Linked DNA regions of Homo sapiens. The protein of the gene in region 1 purifies or fractionates together with the protein of each later gene. This does not show direct contact. Each region holds a gene or a part of one and is shown on either strand. Other genes may lie near its edges. The genes, in order: COL4A2 and P4HA2.

Region 1 (3,809 bases):
TACAAAAAAGCATGTTGCTTCAAAAGGCAGCTTCATCCAAGGCAACAGAAGACAGTGAAGCAGAGTACTCAGGAGCCAGCCAGGAGCTCAGGAGACAGGGGAGGGGCTGGAACCCAGCACCGAGGTAGGAGCCTGCCGGGTGGACGCGGGGCACCGGGGTGGGAGCCTGCCGGGTGGACACGGGGCACTGGGGTGGGAGCCTGCCGGGTGGACGCGGGGCACCGGGGTGGGAGCCTGCCGGGTGGACACGGGGCACTGGGGTGGGAGCCTGCTGGGTGGACGCGGGGCACCGGGGTGGGAGCCTGCCGGGTGGACACGGGGCACTGGGGTGGGAGCCTGCCGGGTGGACGCGGGGCACCGGGGTGGGAGCCTGCCGGGTGGACACGGGGCACTGGGGTGGGAGCCTGCCGGGTGGACACGGGGCACTGGGGTGGGAGCCTGCCGGGTGGACGCGGGGCACCGGGGTGGGAGCCTGCCGGGTGGACGCGGGGCACCGGGGTGGGAGCCTGCCGGGTGGACGCGGGGCACCGGGGTGGGAGCCTGCCGGGTGGACGCCGGCTGCTCGCACGTCCTTTGAAATTCACTCTCTGGCCACATCAACAGGACTGGAGACACCTGTGAAGTCTCCCTAGAATTAGATGCCGCCTTCTCCTTTCAGGGGTAACCAAAATAAAAATTACCGTCCTCCGGAGCCACCAATGAAATCAAGAGCAGTGAGTCACTTAGGCCGTCACCTGTCCTGACAGGGTCTCATTAACTGAAGGGAGTGGGCACCAGAGGGAAACAGCAAGAGGGGACTATCCAGGAACTCTGCCCTTTTCCTCATCTCAACTGAGAAATGTCACATATTTACTGGATTCCAGAAGCTTCTCGACACCGTGAAGATAAAAAGTCCCATGTGGCATATTGATTTCTAAGCGATATCCTGGTGCAGGCTGGATAGATTCTATTCTGGAGCTTATCTGGAAGGGCTTTCTCATCCCCAGCATCACAGCGGAGACCCCGGCTCACCCTCACAGGTCTTAGCACACCTGCACAGGCCAGCCCTCACTGCTGACCTCTAACTTACTCATGGTATGTTGATCACCTGAGAGATCCATTCCACACAACATTCTCTTCCAGGCTCCAGAGCCAAAGCACGTAAAGTGTCTTGCCCTGAAGTCAGAACCCGGTTAGCAACAGGCTGGATTAGACTTTATGGCCTCTCAAGACTATTGTGTCATTCCTGGTCCCTGATTCACAAGCTCTATCAGCCAAGGCTGGGGGTTGCAGACATTGCCTCCTACCTTCAGCAGTGATCACACAGTAGACACCAGCAGACACAAAGCATGAGGCCAGTTTCAGAGCTTTCTCTAAAACCCTCTAATCAAAGACAAACATTCTTCTTCAGATAAAAAGAATGAGACATTCTCAAACCACTTTCTAGATGGTGATCTCTTCATTATATTATCAACACAGGGTTGAAAAGTTAAATCTCCATGGCACTCAGTTTTTCCCTTGAGTTTCTCTATTATTTAAACTACACATCCATTTTCTTTCCCTCTCCCCAGAAACACAATTAAACACAGTTCTTTGATTTTTATTATTTTAGCAAAATCTTTTTTCTATTCTAGAACCTTTTCCTCTTCACCTCTCTCTCTCTGGTTGTAAACATAGCCGCCTGGTCGTACAGAGCCTGTTTCCTCTCCTGCGCTTTTCGGTTTACCCTTCCTACCCACCTCTCCTTCTGGGATGCTGCTGACAAATCTCTGCTATTATTTATCGTGGCCAAGTCCTACAAGCCACCCATGGAGGAAGACTTTAACAGCCTCCAGAGAGCTGAGATATGCTTGTTTATCCACGAGCAGAGGAGGAACCCCGTGCTTTTCCCTTCTTCTCAGAGGGCCATGTTTTGAGCAATAGCGCTTCAGCTCCAGGAAATGCAGGAAAGAATTGTCCTTCCCGATCCTTACAGAAAGCTCTGGGCCTCGTGCGGCATGAACACCTCTCCTCCCTGTACCAAAGCCTGCGGAAAGGACTTGCCACCGCAGCTGCCGGCCTGGAGGGCAGGGAAGGCGGTGGCAGCCAACAGGAAGGTCAGGCGAATTTCCTGGGGCTGGAGCCCCGAGGACAGCCTGGAAACTAAGCGGCAGGGTGGCAGGCAGGGGCCCCGCACTGATGCCTACGTGAACCCACGTCTATTGTGGCCCCAGGTCCCGGCCAGAGGTCCTCAGGTGACCACCCAGCCGGCTGCATATTTGATCCCTCAGGCTGCTGCCAGCCTCTGGAGATAGGTGACAATGCTCAGAGCGGCTACAGTGAGTGCTTTCAAGCCTCCATGAAGGTTAGAATAGGCAGCCGAGGGGAAGTCCCTTAAACAGGCCCAGGGGATACCTCCTGGCACCCAGGCTGTGCCAGACCCTCCAAGGCGCTTCACATGCACCCACACACCTCACAGCACCCCCATCTATGAGGTGGGTGGGATGAGTAACACCTCCGTTTTGGGGGAGAGGAGAACTAGGACGCAGAGGCTTGGCGAATGTCCGCCCCAGGCGGCAGCCCCTCAGCTGCCCACCAGACTGAGAACTGCACCCCGTCACCTGCCTCAAGTCTGGGATGGGACCCCTGTGTCACACTGCCTTACACGAAGCCATTTTGTGCATCTTGGCACCACATTCAAACAAGGGCACCTTTAGAAAGGGCACCTTGGACAGCAGGGAGTGTGTCCTGAGGTGCCCACACAGATCACCTGGGTTCACACTGAGTCTAGAGCCCAGGCTGCCCCGTGGGATTTCGGCTTCCTTTCCTCCCTTTGGGAAGGGTCTTGCTTCTCTCCTTCACTTGCTGCCCCTGATCCTCACAGTGGGAGAAGCAGAGGAGGAAGGAGGGGGAGAGCCTCCTTCCTAGGAATCAGTGCCCGCTCCACTGTTAGTCCACGGTCAAGACCAAGAAGAAAGCACCCACACCCCAGGAGACTCAAAGACTGAAACTCAGGAGTGCCCTCCCGGCCACCTTTCAGGCCCTGGGAAGCTCGGTGTGGAGGAAGAGGCCTGGGTTCTAATCCGTCTCATTCAGTTACAAAGACAGGAACCTTGGGCGAGGGCTGCAAACCCTTTGTGGCTTTTCTCACCTGTAAAATGGGGGTAATAATAGTTACCTAGCTCATCAGTGTGCTTGCTTGTGAGGATTAGAAGCATTAGTACAGACAAATTGGCACACAGGAAGTGCCCAATAAGTAATCACCAAGGCTCTTCACTGCCCATCCTAGCTGCTTCCGAAACAAAACAAGCCAAAGGGCTCCCAGCGGCAGCCCTTTTTCCTGAACTGACCTACGCAGGAAAGAGTCCTTGCCACAATTAAGAAAAATCTTTAATCAATACAGTTGAAAATTGAAACATTATTTCACAAGGAACAGCCATTAAAGCCAGTGGTTACCAAGAAGTGAGTAAGTAGAAGACCAGCCCCTTGTTGAACGTAACAAACTACATGTCTCTTAACAACACATATTACTAGGTCCCTAGTAAAATGATTAAAAATATCTATTTTTTTTGGTTGAGTTAGAATCTAAAGCCCAGGAAAATAAAGTGAATTGGCAAGTAATCTCAACTGCCTCTCAACCCAATACTGTAGCTCAGTGGTTCCCAGATTCTGGTATCATGTGGGGAGGCGGAGTCCCGGACTCCACCCTGGAATGTCTGACCTGAAGGTCTGAGATGGGGCCTGACTTCTTAACAAGCCTTTCAGGGTTTAGGTCTGGGGGTCTAGGGGGCCTGCACTTTGAGAAGCTCTGCTGGGCAATCAATGTTCTTGGTGCCATCCAAAGATCAAAG
Region 2 (3,809 bases), on another chromosome or scaffold:
ATTTTTTCCCTTTATGCTTTTATTGTGTGGTTATTACATGCTGGGGATTGTGCTGTGTACATGCTGGTGAGCAGAACATATGTGGTCTCTCTTGTGCTTGAGGTCCAATATGAGAGACTTATTTTAAACATCAGAGAGATTCTTCTTTATCTTTTTTTTTTTTTTTTTTTGAGACAGACTCTCCCTCTGTTGCCCAGGCTGGAGTGCAGTGGCGCTATCTCAGCTTACTGCAAACTCTGCCTCCCAGGTTCAAGCGATTCTCCTGCCTCAGCCTCCCAAGTAGCTGGGATTATAGGCGTGCACCACCATGCCCAGCTAATTTTTGTATTTTTAGTAGAGATGAGGTTTCACCATCTTGGCCAGACTGGTCTCAAGCTCCTGACCTCAAGTGATCCACCCGCCTTGGCCTCCCAAAGTGCTGGCATTACAGGCGTGAGCCACCATGCCCAGCCTAAACATCAGAGAGATTATTATGTAGTTATGGAGACAGGTGCTGTGAACCCCAGGCTTGGGGTTCAGTGGAGGCCTCTCTTTGGAAGTAACATATCAGTTGAGACTTAAAAGTTGAGTGGAAATTAGCTGGTAGAACATGGTTTCTGGCAGAAGAGAGAGTGTATGTAGTCCTGTAAGAGAAAAGGAACTTGGGATGTTGGAAAGGTAGAAAAAGGCTGGTGTGTCTGGAGAGAGGCTAGTGAGACTGACAGGGCCTTGGGGTTCTAGAAAAGAATCTGAGTTTGATCCACAGGGCTGTGAGAAGCCATCAGAGCTTTTGTCTTATTCATTTACCATATGTCTGTCAAGTACCCTTCAGTGAGTCTGGTATGTGTCCTGTGGAAATATTTTTTACCTCCAATTTTTATTAAATTATGGACAAAAAAAGTAAGAGAGCCAGATGGGAAAGAAGTAGTGCTTTGGCCATGAGTCAAGGCATGCTCTGTGGGCATGAGTACAGCCTTGCTAGTGTGGAACTTGTGTTCAATGTAGTTTAAGGCCTTACCATAGGAGAAAGCAGGGCCTCTAGAGACACAGTGCCCCACCCTTCCACTCAGTTGGCCCCAGGAAGGGTGGCTACTCTGGGAAGGTGAAGGTCTGACTAGAGCAGCAAACTACTAGAGCCAGAGAAACAGAGCTGCAGTGGGGACTGCACATGGTGTTGGAAACAGTACAGAGCTCCTGGTCAGGGCACTTTGCAGAGTACAGTGGCTTAGGCAAGGCCAAGGCTAGATGGGGATTCAAAGGGTGGGGTCAGAACAGGCATTTTCTGAGTACAGACTCAGATTATTTTCATCCAGGGACAGCCCGGATGTGGGTCTCCTGTGGGCCTCAACTCTTGAACACTCATGACATGGAGACTGTTCTAATGAATCACACTGGTTAAGTAGGCATGGGAAGAGCCTTTCTTGGCTAAAGGGCTGGCCATGGAGCAGACACCAAGTAGTGTCACTCATGCTGAGAGGAGGGCAATCTATATACCTTGTCATGTCCTTTGTGGCTCAATTGCTCTGAGAGCCTTGGGTAGGAGGGTCAAGCTCTATGTCTTATATTTCCAGATGAGTGATGTAGAAGCTGGTGGTGCCACCGTCTTCCCTGATCTGGGGGCTGCAATTTGGCCTAAGAAGGTAAGTTCTGATTCTTGTGGGTCAGAGGTTGAAGCAAGGCTCAGACTTTACTTTGTCCATGTCCCCCAGTACCATTACCTGGCCTGCCTGATTGTCACTGTGATGTGCCTTAGCCCACCTGGGGTCTGACCTGGTAGCCCAGCTTCTCCCTGTGAAGAAAGGACAGGGAGGGAAGTCCCTTCAGGGGCGGGTGAGTTCCCAGACTTCTACCTCAGAAAGGTAGGTGCTTTCTGGGAAATGTCTCTGTTGCTGGAGTCCCAGAGCCCTATCCCCTGTCCATGGGAAAATGAGGGTGTTTCTGCTCAGGGCAGAGCTTCTGTGATGCTTGCAGTCAGGTCCCTGAGCACAGTCTCTTAAGAATGTGTTCTGAAAGGCCATCTCTTTCCCAGGGTACAGCTGTGTTCTGGTACAACCTCTTGCGGAGCGGGGAAGGTGACTACCGAACAAGACATGCTGCCTGCCCTGTGCTTGTGGGCTGCAAGTGGGGTGAGTGTCTTAAGGGGTAGTGTTGGTGTTGGTGGCCTCAGCTTGGGCTTTGCTTATTGGCCTTAGATTCTGAGCTGGGAGGCAACTGCTGCCAAATTTGCTGAGACTGTCTCCCTTCTTAGGTTTTTTTCTGCTGTTATTACCATCCAGCCATGTAATGTCCATGCAGCTGGTAAATGCCAAGGCAGCTGGTTGGAAACACTCAGAGATACACAGGAAGCTGAAGAAGGCCTGAGGACGAATAGCTGCATAAGCACCATAGGTCCAGGACCCTCTGGCAAGGCTTCTGAGGGAGCAGAGTGGAGAGCTGGAAGCAGTGAGGGGAAAGAGTGTCTCAGGCAAACAAGGCCCATATGGATGGAGGCACAGGCTAAAACCAGCATACGGGTGTGGGGGCTGGCTCCCTTGTCACTTGAAGAAAGGGAGGCCTGTGGCACAGGGGCCAGAAGATGAGGCTGGAGGCTGGGACCAAACTGCAGAGGCTCAAGCTTGAGCCTTATCCTGGGAGCAGTTGTGGTGAGCCTCGGAGAGGCTCAAACCAGGATATGACAGGAAGTGTTTGTAAGGAGATGAGTGTGTAGCCCCCTTGGAGAGTTTTGAAGATAAATAGTGATAGGTTTGCAGATAATTAAGCAAATGGAAAAGAAAACAAGGCAGTTGCTGAATTCAGGGGAAAAAAAGTTGTACAAGAAAGGAAATGTAAGTATAATCTACTAGATGGCTCAGGTGTAACACATGATATAATTATGTACACACTGAGTATTACTTTAACTAAAACTTATGATTTACCTGTACTGGAAAGGTGGGAGGGGATGAGTTTGTGTTTTAGGGGTAGAATAAAAGAATTCCAAAGTTGAAAGTCAAGGAATAGAACTATAAGCATCTTATCTAGAAAAATGAGGTTAAATATCAGAAGAAACAGCTAGAGGAGTTTAATGTTCCCTGGGAGTGGAGATTAGGGATGGGAAGGAGAGGCTTAGGAGGAGTGCTATTTATCATTATAAGCCTTGCGACAATTTTATTTTTTTCAATGAAGTACATGTTATTACTTTATATTTTAAAAGCTCTGTGACTTCAGTAGTGCATTGAAATAAAATTTTTATTCATTATGAGAGAGTCTGTGAGGAACAGAATCATGGTTCCTGTGTGTTTGAAGATATGGCGTGGGGTGATAGTGCTGGCAGCAGCTCTGTTGCTCTTGTGCCCATGGCATACAGACTGGATCTGCTGGTCCACGGCTCCTGAGGTTAATGTCCAAGCCCTCTGCAATGCTGACAGTCTTCCTCATCCTCACACCCTACCTCTCAGTTTCTACCTGCCACCTCCCAGTAATATTAGGCCTCTTGAGTCCCCAACACACGTCAGGGTGGCTTCTGCCTTGATTACTTTCTCATCCTGTTGTCACTCCTGGGACCCTCTTGGTGAGAGAACCATCTGGGTATGCCCATCTTCTTCCCAGGATAACTTCTATGTAGCTTTATATTCTAGCCCTAGGATTTCCTCTTCCCTCTAAGAGCAAGAAACATGTGTGCAGGTTGCCATGGGAATAGAGCCAAAGGGCATCAAAGGTCATGGGCATGAAAGGGCATGATTAGATGCCCTTGGGTGCTATTCCCATGGCAACCTGCACACATGTATCTTGTCCCACTGGCAGAATTTCATACAATTATCTGTTTACATGTGTCTTCCTTACCAATTCTTCAG

What was found.
Region 2: the proteins of COL4A2 (region 1) and P4HA2 purify together in Homo sapiens (co-immunoprecipitation; one large-scale study listed by IntAct). This does not show direct contact.

Annotation. Positions count from the first base shown.
Region 1 is NC_000013.11:110,310,188-110,313,996, reverse strand, and holds part of COL4A2 (collagen alpha-2(IV) chain preproprotein), read right to left. Parts: intron 1-3,809. UniProt on the Homo sapiens protein: Type IV collagen is the major structural component of glomerular basement membranes (GBM), forming a 'chicken-wire' meshwork together with laminins, proteoglycans and entactin/nidogen.
Region 2 is NC_000005.10:132,193,222-132,197,030, reverse strand, and holds part of P4HA2 (prolyl 4-hydroxylase subunit alpha-2 isoform 2 precursor), read left to right. Parts: intron 1-1,550; coding exon 1,551-1,619; intron 1,620-2,008; coding exon 2,009-2,105; intron 2,106-3,809. UniProt on the Homo sapiens protein: Catalyzes the post-translational formation of 4-hydroxyproline in -Xaa-Pro-Gly- sequences in collagens and other proteins.